2 linked regions of the Homo sapiens genome follow. The protein of the gene in region 1 purifies or fractionates together with the protein of each later gene. This does not show direct contact. Each region holds a gene or a part of one and is shown on either strand. Other genes may lie near its edges.

What was found. Proteins that work in one complex are often made in the same cells at the same time.
Region 2: the proteins of SOWAHA (region 1) and POM121C purify together in Homo sapiens (affinity purification with mass spectrometry, with the first as the bait; one large-scale study listed by BioGRID). This does not show direct contact.

The regions. Positions count from the first base shown.
Region 1 is NC_000005.10:132,811,957-132,816,101, reverse strand, and holds the start of SOWAHA (ankyrin repeat domain-containing protein SOWAHA precursor), read right to left. Parts: upstream 2,801-4,145; 5' UTR 2,481-2,800; coding exon 831-2,480; 3' UTR 1-830.
Region 2 is NC_000007.14:75,483,500-75,487,581, forward strand, and holds the start of POM121C (nuclear envelope pore membrane protein POM 121C), read right to left. Parts: upstream 2,801-4,082; 5' UTR 2,365-2,800; intron 821-2,364; exon of another isoform or gene 699-820; intron 1-698. UniProt on the Homo sapiens protein: Essential component of the nuclear pore complex (NPC). The repeat-containing domain may be involved in anchoring components of the pore complex to the pore membrane. When overexpressed in cells induces the formation of cytoplasmic annulate lamellae (AL).

The DNA.
Region 1 (4,145 bases):
TCATGATGGAGACAACCACAAATTAAAAGTATCTGTCAAAATGTCTCTTTTCTCTAAGTCACCTTTACTTTCAAGATGTACTTGTTTGCAAATATTTAGCATTCACAGTACAACTGAAATTAGTTACATTCATAATGGTCACAATCGTTATTCTGTGTTCAAGACTCTCCAGAATCTTGATTGCCTAAAACGAGGTAGATAAACTTTTAAGTTTGTTGGTTGGGATTAATTTCCTTTAGATCTTGATCATCTATTTTTTAAATAGAATTCCAAAGTATTTAGCAAAAAAAAAATTGAAAATGTCTAAGCACTTTGCCTAAAAGTGGAAAAATATAATTCCAAAAGGTTATTACGAAAGTTGCATTACCTCATTTCAATTTAAAAACAGAATAAAAGCATCAAATTACAAAACCACCACATATCTTAAAGCTGACAACCTAACATCTTTCAACATTTAAAGAGACCCTTGCTCTAGCTCTGTCTTGGGATTGTGTAGCTGCAGAGGCATCAGGTGAAGGCTTTCAGGGGCCAGACCAGCTGCTGCCCCTTAACCTTTGACCCTGGATTTCAAGTTCCCTCTAGAGTTCAGGCCTGTCTCCTGGAGTTCTTTATAGGAAGCTCTCACTGATTTCTCAAATCCCATCTCTGGAGATGGGTCATGCTTCAGAAAGAAGCTGGAGGTGCAGGCCCATCTGGGTAAAACAGGCTGCCCTGGACAAAGCTGGAAACAGAATGAGGCTCCAGGCGTTGATTGGGCTGCAGTCTTGGGCGGGTTTGGACTGCGACGAGCAGGCCACGATAGATCAACCAGGTGGTAGCCCCAGGGACCTTCAGGTTGTTGGAGGCAAACTGGGCACTAGACCAGCTAAAGGCCCCGGAGTAGGTCGACGAGAGATTTCTGAGAAGGCTGGCAGACCACCGCGGATCTTTGTCTTTTTACGTGGAGCCATGGGCGAGGCGCTCAAGAACTTGCTGAAGGAGCTCGACTTCTTCAAGCCTCGGGCCAGGTCCTGGAGCATGAGGTCGTCAGCCAGGACGCCCAGAAATGCACTGGTGGTGGAACTGAGGATGGTGGCGGCCACCTGTACGGGGCGCCTGGCAGCAAGACTGCCACTTCCACCACCGGTCGCATCTGGCTCCGTGGTGCCTCGCAGGCCTGGATCGCCAAGAAGGCGGCGCAGCGCGTACGAGGAGCCGGGCCGCAGGTACTGGTAGGCGCGACGCCCGCTGTGATCACGCACGTGCACCTGGGCACCCAGACGCACCACCAGCAGCACGGCAGCGTCCTCGTGGCCGTGCAGTGCAGCCAGGTGCAGCGGCGTGTAGCCGCCGTGGGAGCGTGCGTTCACGTCGACTGGTGCGCCACTGCGCCGCGCGACCTCCACCAGCTGCAGCGCCATCTCGCCGTCGCCGCTCTTGGCGGCCCAATGCAGGGCCGTGAAGCCAGACATGAAGTCGCGCTTGGCCGCCAAGCCGCGGTCGCGCAGCAGCAGCCCGTGCAGCTGGTGGGTCCAGCGGCCCCCGGCAGTCCGCACGAGCCACTCGTGCTCGGACGGCTCCAGGGGCACCGCGGACGGCGGCGGCGCGGCGGGCAACTCCTCGGCGTCAGGGCTCAGCAGACGCGGGCCGGCGCGCGACAGGCGCCTCAGGTGCGGGGAGCGGCCCGGGCCCAGGCCGAGGCCCAGACCGGACTCTTCCACCGAGAGCCGCCTCAGCAGCAGAGGGGAGCTCCGCGGGCTCGGCTCCTCCGACAGCTGCCGGCGCAGGCCGGGCTCCTCCGCCCGGAGGCGGAGCGTGGCGGGGGCCGGGACGCAGCGCACCGGCAGCATACAGGGCTTCTGCTGCGGCGGCCCTTTCGCTGCCCCGGGCCCGGGCTCCGCGTCTGGCGGATCAGAGCAGGGCGATGCCGCCTCAGAAGGGGCCCTAGGCGGTGGGGCCGCGTCTGCGGAGGGTCTCTCGGTGGCCTGGGCTAGCTCAAGGGCTGGAAGCGGTGGGTCGGCGGACCGCTCCCCGGGCGGCTGAGCGGGCTCGGAGGCCGGCCCCCCCGGGGTGTCCTGTGGCTCTGTTGGCAGACCCAGGTCCCCTGGCGGCTCCACTGGCCGCGGCACCCGGACCAAGGGCGGAGCTCCCGGGGCAGAGGCGCTCCGCGGCAAGACCGTCGAAGTGGGTTTCGACGGCTGGGCCGCTGCCCCCGGGGGGCCGAAGGGTGCGGGCTCGGGCTCCGGGGGCCGGGGCTTCTTCCTCAGCACCACGAACTTGACGCCGTCGAGCTCCTTCACCACCGCCACGTTGTTGACGAACTGCTTGAAGCGGTCCCTGCGGGCGGCGCGGCCCCGCGGGTCGCCGGCATCGAGCAGCGGCTTGAAGCGGCTCAGCAGCTCGGAGTTGCGCACCTTCCCGCCGTGCTCCTGCAGGAAGCCCAGCACCGCCGCCTGGCTCACCCCGGCAGCCGCAGCGGCGGCGGCGGCGGCCAGCGCCATGGTGGGGCCCTGGGTTCCTGGCTCCCGGGGCGGGTGGGCGCCGCGTCGCCGCGGGACGCGCGGGAGCGGGGTTCCGGGAGGCGCGGCCGCGCTCACCTGGTGCCTTCCCCGCGGCCAGCCGGGCGTGTCCCCGAAGCTGGACCTCGGTCGCGCCAGTGCCGCTGGGCCGGGGCGTCTCGGGGCGAAGGGCGCCGGGGGCCGCGGGGAGCGCCCACCCCCAGCGCCCCGCCGGGCCCCGGCCTTCGGGGTAGGTTTCTGCCTTTGTATTCTGTCCAATGGGCGCCTGCTTCCATCCCCCGCGCCGCGCTCGCCTTACAGGTGACAGCTGCCCCCGCGATGCAGAGGGAACCGGAGCAGAAATTCCCGCCGCCCCCCGCCCGCCCCAGAATTAAAGGCGCAGCGCTCCAGCTCTGGTCTCGGTTGCTAGGTGGGTGTGTTCCCTAGGGACGCCGCGGTCCGCCAAGGAGGAATGGATTTTTATTCCTTTAATAAACATTTAACCACTGCAAAACACCAAGCGATGATTTCAGAACAATCTTTTTTTTTTAAAGGTCGTCAATACCACTCCAGTTTTTTTTTTTTTTTACTGTGTTTCATGCAGGAAAACGGCTTCATGAGATTTACAGCAAAACCAATTCACTCTGCGCGGCAATGCACGTTACTCTAGGTTTAGAGAGACGTTTTCAAAAGCAATTTTCTCATGGTAAGAGAATACATTTTCACGTAGAATTTGGGGTATAAAACCACAGGAAACATAAACATAACAGGAAAACATAGAGGAAAACATAAAGAAGGAAAAAAAATCACTTGAAATCACCATTAACATTTTGAAATATCCTCTCCCTGTCTCCCATGTGTGTATGTATGTTTATGCTTTAAAGTAAGAAAGCAATGCGGAGTCATGCCATGGTTTTAAACCTTCGTTTGTTCCACAGATAGGTATTGAGCACGTAGTTTGTGCCAGGACTTTTTTTTTTTTTTTTTTGGCTAAGATGCGTCAGTTAGCAAGACAGATTTAAAAACCCGTGACCTAGTGGGGCTCATGTGTTGGAGGAGAACAGAAGCATATGGTGAATCCGAAAACTATATGATATACTAAATACATGCTATGAAAAAAGCACAGCGGGGTATAACGGATGAGGGTCAGGTTGCAATTTTGATCTGGGCAGTCAGGATAGTACTCGTTGTGAAAGTGACATTTAAACAAGGACTTGAAGGAGATCAGGGAGTTATGTAGACGGGGAAGAGGTTTCTAGTTGAGGGAACTGCCTGGCAGAGGTAGAATCAGTTCCTTAATTTAAAATGCAGGCCGGGCGCGATGGCTCACGCCTCTAATCCCAGCACTTTGGGAGGCTGACTTGGGCGGATGATCTGAGGTCAGGAGTTCGAGACCAGCCTGGCCATCATGGTGAAATCCATCTCTACTTAAAAATACAAAAATTAGCTGGGTGTGATGGCACGCACCTGTAATCCCAGCTACTCCGGAGGCTGAGGCAGGTGAATCGCTTGAACCCGGGAGGTGGAGGTTGCAGTGAGCTGAGATGGCGCCACTGCACTCCAGCCTGGATGACAAGAGCAAGCCCTGTCTCATAAATAAATAAATAATTGCAGTACTACAAATATATCTAACCAGAAGCAGCATATTGTAGTAGCTGAGAAAACAAG
Region 2 (4,082 bases), on another chromosome or scaffold:
TTTCCTGAGGACTCCTCAGCCACGCTTCCTATGATAGAGCCTGCAGACGTGAGCCAATTAAACCTCTTTTCTTTATAAATTACCCAGTCTTGGTTATTTCTCTATAGCAGTGTGAGAATGGACTAATACAGATGGCATTTTCCTTTTGTGATGACTGCCAAGAGTATCAGTCCTAGGTGCGGCTCAATTTCAACAGCCTTAAAATATACTACCCATACATACAAGCTTCACAAATCATTTTTGGTGCTGATCTGCCACACTAACTATATTTTACAGGATAATGTCTATTTCCACATTCCCATTTTAAAGTATGAATCCTGGCTGGGCTCGGTGGCTCATGCCTGTAATCCCAGCACTTTGGGAGGCTGAGGCGGGAGGATCACCTGAGGTCAGGAGTTTGAGACCAACCTGGCCAACATAGTGAAACCCCATCTCTTCTAAAAATACAAAAAATTAGCTGGGCATGGTGGCCCACGCCTGTAATCCCTGCTACTCAGGAGGCTGAGGCAGGAGAATCACTTGAACCCAGGAGGTGGAGGTTGCAGTGAAGCGAGATCATGCCACTGCACTGCAGCCTGGGCAACAGAGCAAGACTCCATCTCAAAAAAAAGAAAAAAAAAAGTATGAATCCTTACAAACCTCTTAAAATGCATCATAAAATAAAGTTGAGGAACATATACACAAGCAGGAAAACTCACCTGCAATGTGTTCATTTTCTGCTGCTCTTGGAAACATGCAGAGACTGTGGCTGATAGACCTAGAGGGGCAGAAGCAGGTCACTGAAGTCATGAGGGCTCCGGCCTGCAAAGGCAGAAATCACCTGCATAAGAACCGCAAAAGAAAGCTCAATAGGCTAACACCCTGTGAACACTCAACCTGCAAACACTCAGAAGGGTCTAAAAGAGTGATACAGGGTTTCACCATGTTGGCCAGGCTGGTCTCAAATTCTGGCCTCAAGTGATCCGCCTGCCTGGGCCAACATGGCAAAACCCCGTCTCTACTTAAAAATAACAAAAAAAATTAGCCAGGCATAGAGTCACATGCCTGTAGTCCCAGCTACTCAGGAGGCTGAGGCACGAGAATCCTTTGAACCTGGGAGGTGGAAGTTGCAGTGAGCCGAGACCACGCTGTTGCATTCCAGACTGGGTGAGAGACACTGTCTCAAAAAAAAAAAAAAAAAAAAAAAGAGTGATAGGGGAAGCATGCGCCTGTAACTCTAAGATAATCAGGTAGTAATTAGATGAGTTAGACTCTCATGGGTAACATGACTCCTTTTACAAATAGTCTGCCATCATCATCAAATACAAGGCGCAAAAAGAAAAAAAATTCCCATTATACGGCTCATGTTTTTTGTGGTTTGTTGGTTGAGACAGGGTCTCAATCTGCCACCCAGGCTGGAGTGCAGTGGTGCATTCACGGCTCTCTGCAGCCTCGACCTCCTGGGCTCCATCCATCCTCCCACTTCAGCCTCCTGAGTAGCTGGGACCACAGATGCATCCCAGCATGCCTGGCGACTTTTGTATTTTTTGTAGTCAGGGTGTCCCCATGTTGTCTAGGCTGGTCTCTAACTCCTGGTCTCAAGGGATACTCTTGCCCTAGCCCCGCAAAATGCTCGGATTACAGGTGTGAGCCACTGCATCCCGCCCGCATTTTCTTATTGTCTCTTTAAACTGCTTAAAATAAAATAAGCCATAGGAATTGAGTATGTGAGCTCTCAGAAATGAAATGAATGTGTATAAAATATGGTTTTGTTTCTAAATTATCTAACTGAACTTGGTTATTGCTGCACCTAATAATCTTCTATTAAGAAAACTAGGATACGGGAGAAAGAACACTGGCCTGGGAGATAAGTCTCCTGGGTTCTACTATGAGCAGCTCTACCCACAAAGCCGGTGACCTGGTCAAGTCACCCACCTAAGGCCCAGTCTCTTCCCCTAGCAACTGAGGCAGCAGCAGAGAATCCCTGCAGACTGTTCCTGCATTACTACGATTCTCCCAGGGCAGGTCTAAGGGGGGGGATCAGCAGACACTTAAGTGAGAGAATAGAAGTGCTGACGGACGTTTAGAGGCGGTCGAAATCTGGAGCACGGAGAGGAGGAGGAAGGACTGTTAGGGGTTAGCGGGGAGTGGAGACGACGTCCGCAGCTGAGGGTGGTGACACCCTCCACGCCTCCGTAAGCCTCGTCCTCCCAGATCTTCCCATGCAGCACCTGTTCGGTGCAGCCGGACCCTGCCCTCAAACCCAACACATGTCTCTCCGGCAAGCAATCGGGACCCTCCCTCTGCCCCACACTCAAAGGTCCCCAACACAAGGTGACTTCACCCAGGCCCTTCTCGCTCCGGGCCCAAAAACCCAAGACTTACCCTCCTGGGGCTCCGCAGCCTCTGCCCCACGGCTCCCGAGAGGCCGGGGCGGGCTGCTGTCGCTGGCGCGCGCGTCTGCTCGCGAGGTCCCCTCCTGTCCACCTCACCAAGGCTGTTCTGCTCCCGAGGGGCCCGGGCCGGGCCTACGGGGCAAATCCAGGCGGGTGTCCTTCTCGGGGCCCAGATCCGCCTCCCTGGGGCTCCCGGCCCCTCTGGCCCCAGCGCCGCCGGCTCCGGGGTTCACGCTCGGGGGTCCCAGCTCGAGCCTCTACCCGGCCCGCGCGAACCCTGGGCCGCACAGCTCCCGCCCGCCTAGGTGCTGGTCCGGGCGGTCAGCATCCAGCCCCGCAGACTCGGTGATTCTCGTCCACTAGAAGCCAAAGCCTGGGAACGAGAGCAAGCGATGACCTGAAGAGGCACAGGAAGCGAGGGCAGTGCGGAGGTGGCGCGCATGTGCGAACACGCACGCAGGGAGAGGTGCACAAGCGCAGGAGTGCACCGGAAGTCCGCCTCCCGGGACACCCACCGCGGGTCCCAGGACAAGTAACGGACTCTATTTCCCAGGAGCCTACGCGCTCCCCCAGTTTTGGGGCCGTCTTAAATGTCTCTACCCTGCCTAAAGGTTAAGAAGCTCCAGGCTATGAGCTTTGGCAGCCCTGAACCCCGGACTGAACTTCACCTTTGTCTTTACTCCCTTTTAGGGTCAAATCCAGGGCTCCGTTACTGGGTCCTGGAGCCCAAGTCCTCTGGGTTAGAACGGAGTTTCCCATAAGGAGAAGGAAAGGAAAGGGTGTATCATGGTCACTGCTCTGAAATGCTGAGAAGTTTCACTCAAATACTGGGACAGGATAAATGCCCAGCGATGCTTTCCAAGGAACAAAAAGAAAATAGAATTTGTAGCTGGGCGCAGTGGCTCAAGCCTGTAATCCCAGCACTTTGGGAGGCCGAGGCGGGCAGATCGCGAGGTCAAGAGATAGAGATCATCCTGGCCAACATGATGAAACCCTGTCTCTACTAAAAATACAAAAATTAGCTGGGCGTGGTGGCGCGTGCCTGTAATCCCAGCTACTCGGGAGGCTAAGGCAGGAGAATCACTTGAACCTGGGAGGTGGAGGTTGCAGTGAGCCGAGATCACGCCACTGCACTCCATCCTGGCGACAAAGCGAGACTCCATAGCTTTTCTAGATCACACAGCGAATGCCTAAAAACCGTAGAGAAATAAGGACATACACACACAAACTGAACGAGGAAGAGATACCTGTGATCCTACCTTCCCCAGGAGGATTATGTTTAGGGTTAGGTTATGTTGACCAAAAAGAGTCAAAGTCTATAAAGAGTTTTATTCTGGGCCTCCTATTTGAGTGACCATGGCTGGTGACACAGCCTCAGGGGGTCCTGAGAACGTGAGCCCAAAGTAGTTGGGTTACAGCTTGGTTTTATGCATCTTAGGGAGACAGTAGTTACAGGCAAAGACATAAATCAATACATGGGAAGTATATGTTGGGTCAGCCAGGAAAGGCTTTCAGGTCACTAGTAGATTGAAAGACTGGCAGTTGGTTCAGAGTTAAGTGTTGGCTGAACAGCTGGAAGACTACATAAAGAAATGGGCCATTGCGGTGGCTCATGCCTGTATTCCCAGCATTTTGGGAGGGTGAGCTGGGAGGATCCCTTGAGGCCAGGAGTTCAAGGACAGCCTGGGCAACACAGCGAGACCCCCA